2 linked regions of the Homo sapiens genome follow. The protein of the gene in region 2 interacts with the protein of the main gene of each other region in a pairwise test. Each region holds a gene or a part of one and is shown on either strand. Other genes may lie near its edges. The genes, in order: NRF1 and CKMT2.

Region 1 (7,312 bases), on a different chromosome or scaffold from region 2:
AGGAAATTTAGCTCCTGTGTTAAGAGAAGGAGCTATAGAAGTAGAAGATAATGAGGGCCCTTGTCCAGATATAGAAGGTTTAAAGGAGAAAGGATTTCAGGTTTCCTTCTGAATTCCTGTGTATGTCGTTAGGACCCCAAATTGTAGGTTTTTTGTTTTATTAAACGATAATTATGCACTTGTCTAATTTTGTTAGGGAACCGAAGGCCAACTTCCCATGATTTAAATACCTGAATTTGCATTGCCTGCACACTGTAGGTTCAACCAAATCTCTGGGTTGTCTTTAGAAGCATTTTATGTAAATAATCACGAATGAGTGACTTGTTTTAAGGGAAATTTAAGCTCCTGTGGTCTGGGATTAAATTTTTATGCCTTTTCTTGTATGGAATAAGGCATTCAGTAAAGTTGAAGAATAATAACAATGAACAGTAATTACTGAAATTAAAATTTTTCCCTGAGTATTTGAAAAGGCATGCTGATTTTTTGGTTTCTGGAGGAACTATGAACTGTCAGTCTTTAGAAACAGTCTACAGTCCTACCTCAACAGGAAGTTAATGTATACATTCAGCTTCTGTCAGATGTCTTTAGACAAGCCTGTTGCTTCATGCTGAAGCAGGCTTATTCATTCACACAGTGCCACTGTGAAAAATTGAAGGGTGAGGGGAAACTCCCTGGGCTGTTGAATTTCACAAATGTCTACTTTAACCTCAAGAGTTTAGATGCGCCCTTTCTGGGCCAGTAATCATCTAGGAAATGGGATATCTGAATTTAGATGTTTGTGTGTGACTGTGTGATGCTTATTAATATGTATATATAGAGTATTTGGAAAATCAATCTTAAAATGCAAATCTTTGATTTTGTAAAAAACATTTCAGGAAATGTTCTATACTAAAATACATTTTCTTTATGTTCTTTCATGTTTTCCTTGATAGCTAAAGCTAGTGTTTTCAGCCTGAGCTTACCCAAATATAATTTTCCATGAATGCTTAGTAAAACAGCAATGAAAAAGGAATCCACTTGTTATTTTAGAAACATTTTATTTAGACCAAGTCCAATGTTTTTTGAGTCTCAAGATACATGTTAATTTTTGTGCCTTGTGTATCATATTTCCTTCCTTATTAACTAGAGGGTGGATTACCCACTTTCTTGGGTTTTCAGTTAGTACTTTTATCCATCAGTTTTCTACTAAGGTAAACAGACTGGAAGATAAATAGTAAAAGGAGGTGAAACAAATGAATTTCAGGTGTTTCCAGGAGATTAAAACCATATTGAGCTATTGGAAACTTTTAATCCTCAAGCAACAACAATGCTTTGTTTGAAGTTATTTTAGTGCAATATGGACAAAACTTGGGAAAGGAATTTTTGACTGCTCAAGAAAAATAAGTGGATTGCTTATACCTTAGAATATATATATATACACACACACATATATATATTTTTTATTTTTTCAAAAGTGCACTTCAGAATTGGGCTAATGTATTTTCAGCCCAACTTAATGCAGTGTAGTTAGCAAAACATCCAAAAGGCTTCATCATGTTGTGGTCTTTAGGCCTAAAATGTTTTAAAATGTGAACATTTATGTGATACCAAGTAAACTTTCTATGACCCAAAGAAGGGCTAGAAATAAAACTTTACAGAGATGTTCTAGTATATTAGAAAACAATGGCTGGTTATGGTGGTTCATGCCTATAATCCCAGCACTTTGGGAGGCCAAGGCAGGAAGATTGCTTGAGGCTAGGAATTCTAGACCAGCCTGGGCAATGTAGTGACATCCTGTCTTTACAGAATATTTAAAAAAACAAAAAAACGAAAAACTAGCTGGGTATGGTGGCATATGCCTATAGTTTGAGCTATTCAGGAGGCTGAGGCAGGAGGATCACTTGAACTTAGGAGTTTGAGGTTGCAGTGAGCATAATCATGCCATTGTGTTCCTGCCTGGGCGACAGTGCGACCGTGTTTCTTAAAAAAAACTAGTTGCTGTTAAGGTAGGCCTACCACATTTGTAATCTCTTGAGGCAAATCTGTGTTGTTTCTCTAAGAGCAGTCACTTAGAAGATAATCTGACAGTAAGGAATGGTCTACTGAATCCCAGATCTGGTAGTCTGCCTTGCCCAATCACAACATAGTTTGTGTAAAACTCCAACTGCTACTGAACCATCAGATAATTTCTTGAGGAAGCCGTTTCTCTTAAGGAGAAGTGTGTGTGTGTTGGAGGGAGTGTTGGTGGGGAGAAGAGGGGTAAAGAGAAGATGATACTAGTAAAATAATCTAGTTTTGTAGGTTGGGATGATCACTGGAATTTTTTAGGGGAAATATTCTCAAAAAAAGTTGTAAGAGCTACTTTTGTATGGGTTATCAGTTTGGTGATTTAGACTATAGTAATTGCATTGTTTAATATGCATTGTATTTCGATTAATTCATGCATGCTGATTTCTGTGGTAACAAATGTGAAAAGTTTGGCTGATGGCTTAAGTGGACATTTTCTTAAGAACTCTTTAAGTGGTGCCTGTTGGGATAAACTATGCCAAGCCATTTTCTGAATCTTCATGAAGAATGAGCTTTGTATGCATATATATTAAGACAGTTTTTTTTAAAAAGAGCATGTATTTTACTGTTGGTAATTGTAAAGTTTTTGCTTTTTAGAACTTTAAGAGTCCGTTTTGTTGCTGCTACTGAATGCTAATGTGGTTAGGCTGGCAGCTAAACCTACAAAGAACAAGGGGAAATGAGGAAATGTCCCAATGAAACATTGCTTAAAACTGTTTGCGCAGTGGACTAGAAATGGGGAGTTGGGGACTAGGGGACCTGATTCTTGTTTTATGTTCAAAGGAGAGTGAAGCATTCTCTCCATTAAGAAATAACCTCCTTAAGTGTATTCTCACTTTGGAGTTTTGCCACTCATTCATTCACCTGACGATGATTAAAGATATACCACATTCTGGGCATGTACTAGGTGCTAGAGTAACAAATCTTGGGCCTTGTCGTGTAGAGCAGAAAGGTATGGGCTCAACTAGCTATGTTACAACTTCTAGAGAACCAAAATAGAGCAAACAAAGAGTGGTGTGGGATTATAGGAGGAGGGAGAAATTCCTTCTAGGGAGAGGAGAATGATACACAGAGAAAAGTGAGGTTAGGGAAGACTTTTCACATAGGGGAAGTTTGAGTAGGACTTGGAAGGGGGAGTAGCTGCATTACTGATGGAGAAGAGGGGCTGAGAGGAAGGGCATCAGTAGTCTGATTTGAGAACTAGCAAGTGGATTTTGCTCGACTTGGAGAATAGTGGAAAGTGAAACTGATAAGGTTGTGGCCATATTGGGAAGAGTTTGTAATTCCATGCTCATGAGTGTGAACTTTATTCTATAGGCATTTAGGGACCATAAGAGGTTTGAGTAGGACATCCACTATGGTTTTTAAAAAGATGACATGTAAAGATTTGACTAGAGACTTGTGAGAGTATTGAATTGTGATGTAAAAGGACATCGATTCTGGGGATAATTTTTACTTCACAGTTGTCAGATTTGAGTGACAATTGAGTAAAGAGTTAAAGATTATAGTGTGGTTATTGGGTGATGATGATGCCTTTAAGATAGGGAATGTATAGGAAGAACAGAATTTGAGGAGGAAGGTAATAGAGTATGACTCCAGATGTGTTAAGATATCTGGGAATCAAGAAAGGTCAAGTAAGTACCTGGGTATTTGGGCTGGAGCTCAAGGGGACATTGGGATAAATTAGGGGATTTGCATTCATCAGTATAATGCCATATAGAAACTGCAGAAAGCCAGGCATGGTGCCTCACACCTGTAATCCTAACACTTTAGGAGGCCAAGGCAGAGGATCACTTAAGGCCAGGAGTTCAAAACCAGTCTGGGCAACGTTGTGAGACCCTGTTTCTACAAAAATTTAAAAAATTTGTCAGGTATAGTGGTAGCCACCTGTGGTCTCAGCTACTCGGGAGGCTGAGGCTGGAGTATGACTTGAGCCCAGGAGTTTGAGGCTGTAGCAAGCTATGATAGGGCCACTGCACTCCAGCTTGGGTGTCAGTGTAAGACCCTGTCTATAAAAAAGAAAGAGAAAATAGTACAGATTGAGTATCCTTTATCCAAAATGCTTAGGACCAGAAATGTTTTGGAGTTTTTTTTGACTTTGTAATGTTGGTATGCATATAATGAGATACCCTGGAGATAGGGCCCAAGTCTAAACTTGAAATTCATTTGTGTTTCATATACATCTTACAACCTGGATGCAGTTTTATACAATATTTTAAATAATTTTGTGCAGGAAACAAAGTTTTGATTCCATTCTGACTGCAACATGTCACCTGAGGTCAGGTGTGGAATTTTCCACTTGTGGCATCATGTCAACACTCAGAAAGTTTCAGATTTTGGAGCATTTCAGATTTTAAACTTTTGGATTAGGAATGCTTAACCATATCAGGAGTGAAGAAAAAAAACTAAGGGCAACCTTGAAGAGCATCTACATCTGAGGGTCAAGTAGAAGAATAGAAACCTATGAAGTAAGTTGAGAAAGAATGGCTAAACAGATAAGGTTATAGGGTTGAAGAAGCTGAAGAGAGGGATTAAGTGAATACTGACAGGGAAGTTAGCCGTGTGAAATACCACAGAGTTCATTGGTTTGGAGGGCAATGCCGGAGGATCGCTTGAACCCAGCACTTCAAGACCAGCCTGAGCAACATAGCAAGACCTCGTATCTATTAAAAAAAAAAAAATCATTGGGATAAAAACTGGACTTGGCATACGTGTATATATATATATATATATATATATATATATATATATACACACACACACACATATATATACACGTGTGTGTGTGTGTGTGTGTGTGTGTGTGTGTATATATATATATATATATATATGTATTGTTTTGCTGGGAACCATGATAGTTTAGACAGAATAGATTTCTAGAGCATTACTAAATTCAGGGGTAGGTCCTACAGAATCTAACTTAGTAGAAGACCCATGCTTAGAAATAGGTCCTGTTCTTCCATGTCTCTCTGCAATGGGAGTTGCAGCTTAAATGCTTTGGGAGATGACCCCCAATGACAAGGCTGCCTAAAAATCTCCATATTGTTTGGGTTGTTTTTTTTTTTTTTTGCCTCTTTTACATTGTCTTAAATTCTGAGAATTGGAGATTTCATTTGAGTTGACAGTGTCTTAAAATACAAATAACCTCTTGCAGAGTTTTGAGGTTTTATGATATTAATATGTTAAGTATGGGGGTTTTTAACCTGGGGTTTTCTGGTTCTGGGGTTTATATATTTTGGCTGTGTGACCCTGAATCCCTTAAAATTGTTTGAAAAGTTATGTGTGAGTGCATGTGTGATTTTTCTGGGGAGAGGGTCCACAACATTTATGAGATTTTTCAAGGGGGCTGTTGACACACAGAAAAGTCAAGGGCCTTTACTAAATGTTAATGATTAAATCAAGTGTTGGTTGTGTTCGTTGGCTGAAATCAGTTATCTCAACAAGTGAGACAGATCAAGGGAAAGAAATCTTGAGTAGGTGTCTCAGGTGAAGAACTTTGGAAAGATACGAGGAACTTCTTAGAAATGGGAGTAGGAGCACCAGAAGGAAGGTAGGAGGAATGCCAAAGCAAAGCTTAACCGATTTCAGAATTTTGTCAAGTCTCTGGATTGCTTGGTTTTTTTATACTCTAGGACTGACACTTAGTATATGTTTATTCATGCACTGTAGATACAGTAGGCTTTATGGGGTAGGGGAATCAAATCACTTTTTTTTTTTTTTTTTTGAGATAGAGTCTCGCTTTGTCACCCAGACTGGAGTGCAGTGGTATGATCTTGGCTGACTGCAACCTCCGCCTCCCGGGTTCAAGCGATTCTTCTGCCTCAGCCTCCCAAGCAGCTGGGATTACAGGCGCCTGCCACCATGCCCAGCTAATTTTTTATTTTTAGTAGAGATGGGATTTCACCATATTGGACAGGCTGGTCTTGAATTCCTGACCTTGTGATCCGCCCGCCTTGGCCTCCCAAAGTGCTGGGATTACAGGCATGAGCCACCGCACTGGGCCCAAATTACTATTGTTTTAAAGGGAAAGTGTTTTGAAAGAAAACAAATTGATAGATTGTGCTTGTTGGAAAAAAATTTTTCTACCAAGCTGGCTCATCTGTCAGAAAAAATTCATTTTTAAGTTAGGTGTTGCTTATGCTTTGGAAAAAATTTTAAATGCACAAATATTTCAGTCTAGTGATATGGGGCAAGACATTTATTTTCTCCTTGCAAATTTTTTCTGACCATGAAATGAAAATACCGTTGATGGTTTTTGTAGTGTCTTTCTGAAATATGACGATTATGGAATACTTTGAGATCCAGGATGATTTAATGCTAAGAAATTGCTGGCATTCACATTTCTAAAGTCGTGAATAAAATTAAGAAATTCAAGCACATTATGTGTTCACTAGATCTTACTTGATTTCCAAAATATTTCTTTTTGAAATTTTAGATAATTGGTAATTTTTACTTCCTTCTGCTAATCTTTGCATCTTTGAAATTAGATTAGGAGGCAGTTTTGTCAGCTAGGCCCTAGTTTCTGGGGCAGTGATATCCATACTTTTGCTTGCCACCCTCAAAATAAATTAATGCCACTTGGGATTAATTTGTGATTTTTCTGGGGAGAGGGTCTACAACTTTTATTTATTTTACCAGTAGTCTTGGTAAATACAAGAATGATATGAATAAATATGTTGGGTAATCTTAAACTTGTGTTATGTGATTTGTAATTAGCTTGTGTTTGTGGATGATCTTTACATTCAGTAAATCTCCAAAGAGGGCCCAGATAGAATGGAGTATTTTGTCTTTTCCTTTGGGAACTTTTTTTGGTTCTTTCTTTCATTAAACAATTATGAAATAAAATTTTTGGTAACAGATCTTCCATGTAAAAATAGCCCACAAATCAAAGAACTAGCCAAGATTTGCTAAGTAAGAACACATCATGGAATACCATCATAGAACTAGTCTCTTACCCCAAAACTAGCTGTAGGTGCTAAGTCTAAAGAAGAAGTAATTCTGATATGTTACCAGAATTATGTGGTAATGCGACTGAGTGTTAAAATTGTTGTCTTCTTTAATTTTTGGCTCTATTATTTTAAAAGTTTTTCTCCATAGAATTTTTTTTTTTTTTTTTTTGAGATACTATCTCGCTCTGTCGCCCGGGCTGGAGTGCAGTGGCATGATCTTGGCTCACTGTAACTTCCGCCTCTCGGGTTCAAGCGATTATCCTGCCTCAGCCTCCTGAGTAGCTGGGATTACAGGCACCCGCCACCATGCCGGGCTA
Region 2 (2,889 bases):
CCCTGCCTCAAACTCAGGACCAATCAGATAAAACCAAATATGCTTCCCAAAATAATCACATAGCATACCCCGCTTCTAGGTAGCCTGTCTCCAACTTCCCCATGCCTGCAACCCCAATCAGAGCATATCTGAAGCCTCCCCTTTCTTTCACCATGAAGATTTCTCATGTCTCTGCCAAATGCAAGTGATGATAGCTGACACCCTTGTGAAAGCAAAGTCTGAATAAATAAGTAGCCTCTCTTTGTATAGTCTTTATTTCCACACTTTCAATAGGTAAGTCTCCTCTTGCTCCATTTGCCAGAAAATTGCTTATTATATTAATTTAATTTCTCACTTTCCAATGGGGTCCATAAGATATTTCCAAAAGGGTTGACTAACATCTGGATAGCTAATGGGTTATTTAGAGGTGTGTGTAAGTTGTGGCAAAATCAAAACTTAAAATATTAGTTTTATTGTCTTAAAATATTTTGCTTCTTGTCTACTTGTAATCGGATGTGTTTGCCCTTCTTAGTATTATTTTAAAAATCAGAGAAACAAAGCAAAGATATATTAAGGAGAGTTTTATTGTAAAGATAGGCAGGATCTACAATTTTATATTTTTCCAAGTGTATAAAAACTCTCAGAGTAGAGATTTATGTCTGTCGTACCAGCAGACAGATTATTTATAAATTGGGAAAGGGAAAGTTTACTTTTTGCCAAACTGAGGCAGAGGGGGTGGCACCTTAATATCTTGGCCTCTCTCCAACTTCTTTTCACAATCCACCAGGTAATTGACTCCATCGATGACTATCTGAACAAGCTCAACCTTTGACAGTGAAGAAGATGAATGATTAATTTGAATAGAAGCATCTGCAGGGCATTGATTAACAGGAACAGCACTGTGATAAATGAGAACTTGCCACTTAGATGGACTTCACAACAATTCCTTCCTTCTCAGAAATGGAAGGCAGAGATATAAGGGTTTCTCTCAATCTTTCCATAGTTAAGATGGGGATACTACTTTGTATGTGAAAGCTTTTTTACTATGTGAAAACCATTAGTTTGCATCTCTAACATTTTTTCCTACCAGTGTCTGCTATAAAATATCAGAGTTTGTCTAGAAGTAAGACTACAGTGACACCCTCGTGTTATTCTTTGGCCTGGATCTGAATTCTGACCTGCCACTAATCTATCTGAGCACTGGATATGCTAATGTAGCTCAGATATCATCATTAATACAGTGGGTGTCTTCCTGAAAAATTAATGTCAAATGTTTGGCAACTAAATCATGTTTGTACTATGCTAGGCAAGCTTATTAATGAAATGAGTTTTGCAAATTAAGATATACTTTCTAAAATTCCTGTTCTTAAAAAACTCTGTATAGAACTTTGGTTTCCAAATATTTGTTTTCCTTAAACCAGAGCACATCTACTTAATTTTTTTTTCCCCTGGGATCACCTCCTAAGCAAATGACTTGTACTGCCCCCAAGGAAACCCAAATTAAGAGAGAAATTAGTTAATTCCAGACATACATTATACAACTAAAGAATGAGCAGCAAGGATGGAAGGGACCATTGAATGTTAGCTCTCAGGCATCACATACTCCAGCTGCCTCCCTATCTATCTCTTTATATGCATAAGGAAACTTAGGCCCCAAGAGAGGGTTGAATCAGAATGTTAGTCACTACTAACTAAAACACATATTTTCTATTTATCCTTTTGATCCCTTCCAGTGTTGGTGAGAGTATGGTGAGATAGGTCTCTCACTCACTGCCAGTAGGACTCTATCTTGGTATAAATCTGGTAGAAAACTTGATTATAAATAGGGAACTCTGGTTTTAACCCAGGAATTCCTTTTCTAGAAGTATATCCTAACTAAATAACCAGAGTTGTGATTAGAATTATGTAGAGAGATGGTCAAACATAAAATCAGGAAAACATTAAATAGGTAATGGATTATCTTTACTGTGATTAAAAATCATGTTTGTGAAGAATACTTAATATTGTGGGAAAATGTTCATGATATAATGCATTGGAAAAAAATTATAACCAGTATTTGGTTATAATATTAAACATGTATTATAACAATTTTTTCAAGTTTTTTGGGTAGTTTTTAAAAAGAATGAAGGGCCATTTAGAATAATGTTCACAATGGTTATCAGGGTTGTTGGGTTAAATAAATGGTGTTTTTAAATTATTTTTTGGCATTTTCCTCACTTTTATAGTGACTGCCTAGTATAGTTAGACTTAACATTTTTAAAGCATTAACTACATTGTTTTCCAGTAATAAATATCTAGTTAATATTAGAATCAACAGGGATAGACTCCCAGATTTTCTTTATTCACTACACCACACATTATTCAGTAAATTTCAGAAGTTGTGGTATTATAGTTACATGTCCCTCAAGTACTTTACCAGAGCTGATAGCACACTGGCTGATCTAATTGTTTTGAGGGTTTCTTCCTTTCCTTTTCCTCAGTGTACTTACTGGTAGGGATATTGATAGGCAGTGAAATATTCAAAAACTGGTAAGGAAGAAGAGAGAACTTTGATAATCCACAGATTTAATAACCAGTCACTGAATTATTAAGGGTTTTGTTATGAGAAGAGGCTTTAAAATTAATGATGGGCATAATATGTCCAATGGGACCACATCCAGATAGGCTGGTATAACTTACCATGATCAGTATTTGCTTAGCATTCAGCTGCATGTTCCTTACATGTGATCTTTTTGCCTCATTCATTGTTTCAGGCCACACAAAGTCTATGAATCCTTTTCATCCTACATATTCATCACAGAATCCTAAGGATTTTATGAGCACAAACTTATCTAAACCTAGCACATAACATAGTTGCTATCTTTAGCCTAAGAAATAAAAGTTTAGAAACCATCGAGTATCTAAGAACAC

What was found.
Region 1: the proteins of CKMT2 (region 2) and NRF1 interact in binary tests that used the Homo sapiens proteins (3 or more experiments, as listed by UniProt).

What each region holds. Positions count from the first base shown.
Region 1 is NC_000007.14:129,614,637-129,621,948, forward strand, and holds part of NRF1 (nuclear respiratory factor 1), read left to right. Parts: intron 1-7,312. UniProt on the Homo sapiens protein: Transcription factor that activates the expression of the EIF2S1 (EIF2-alpha) gene. Links the transcriptional modulation of key metabolic genes to cellular growth and development.
Region 2 is NC_000005.10:81,264,055-81,266,943, reverse strand, and holds the end of CKMT2 (creatine kinase S-type, mitochondrial precursor), read right to left. Parts: intron 806-2,889; coding exon 686-805; 3' UTR 546-685; downstream 1-545. UniProt on the Homo sapiens protein: Reversibly catalyzes the transfer of phosphate between ATP and various phosphogens (e.g. creatine phosphate).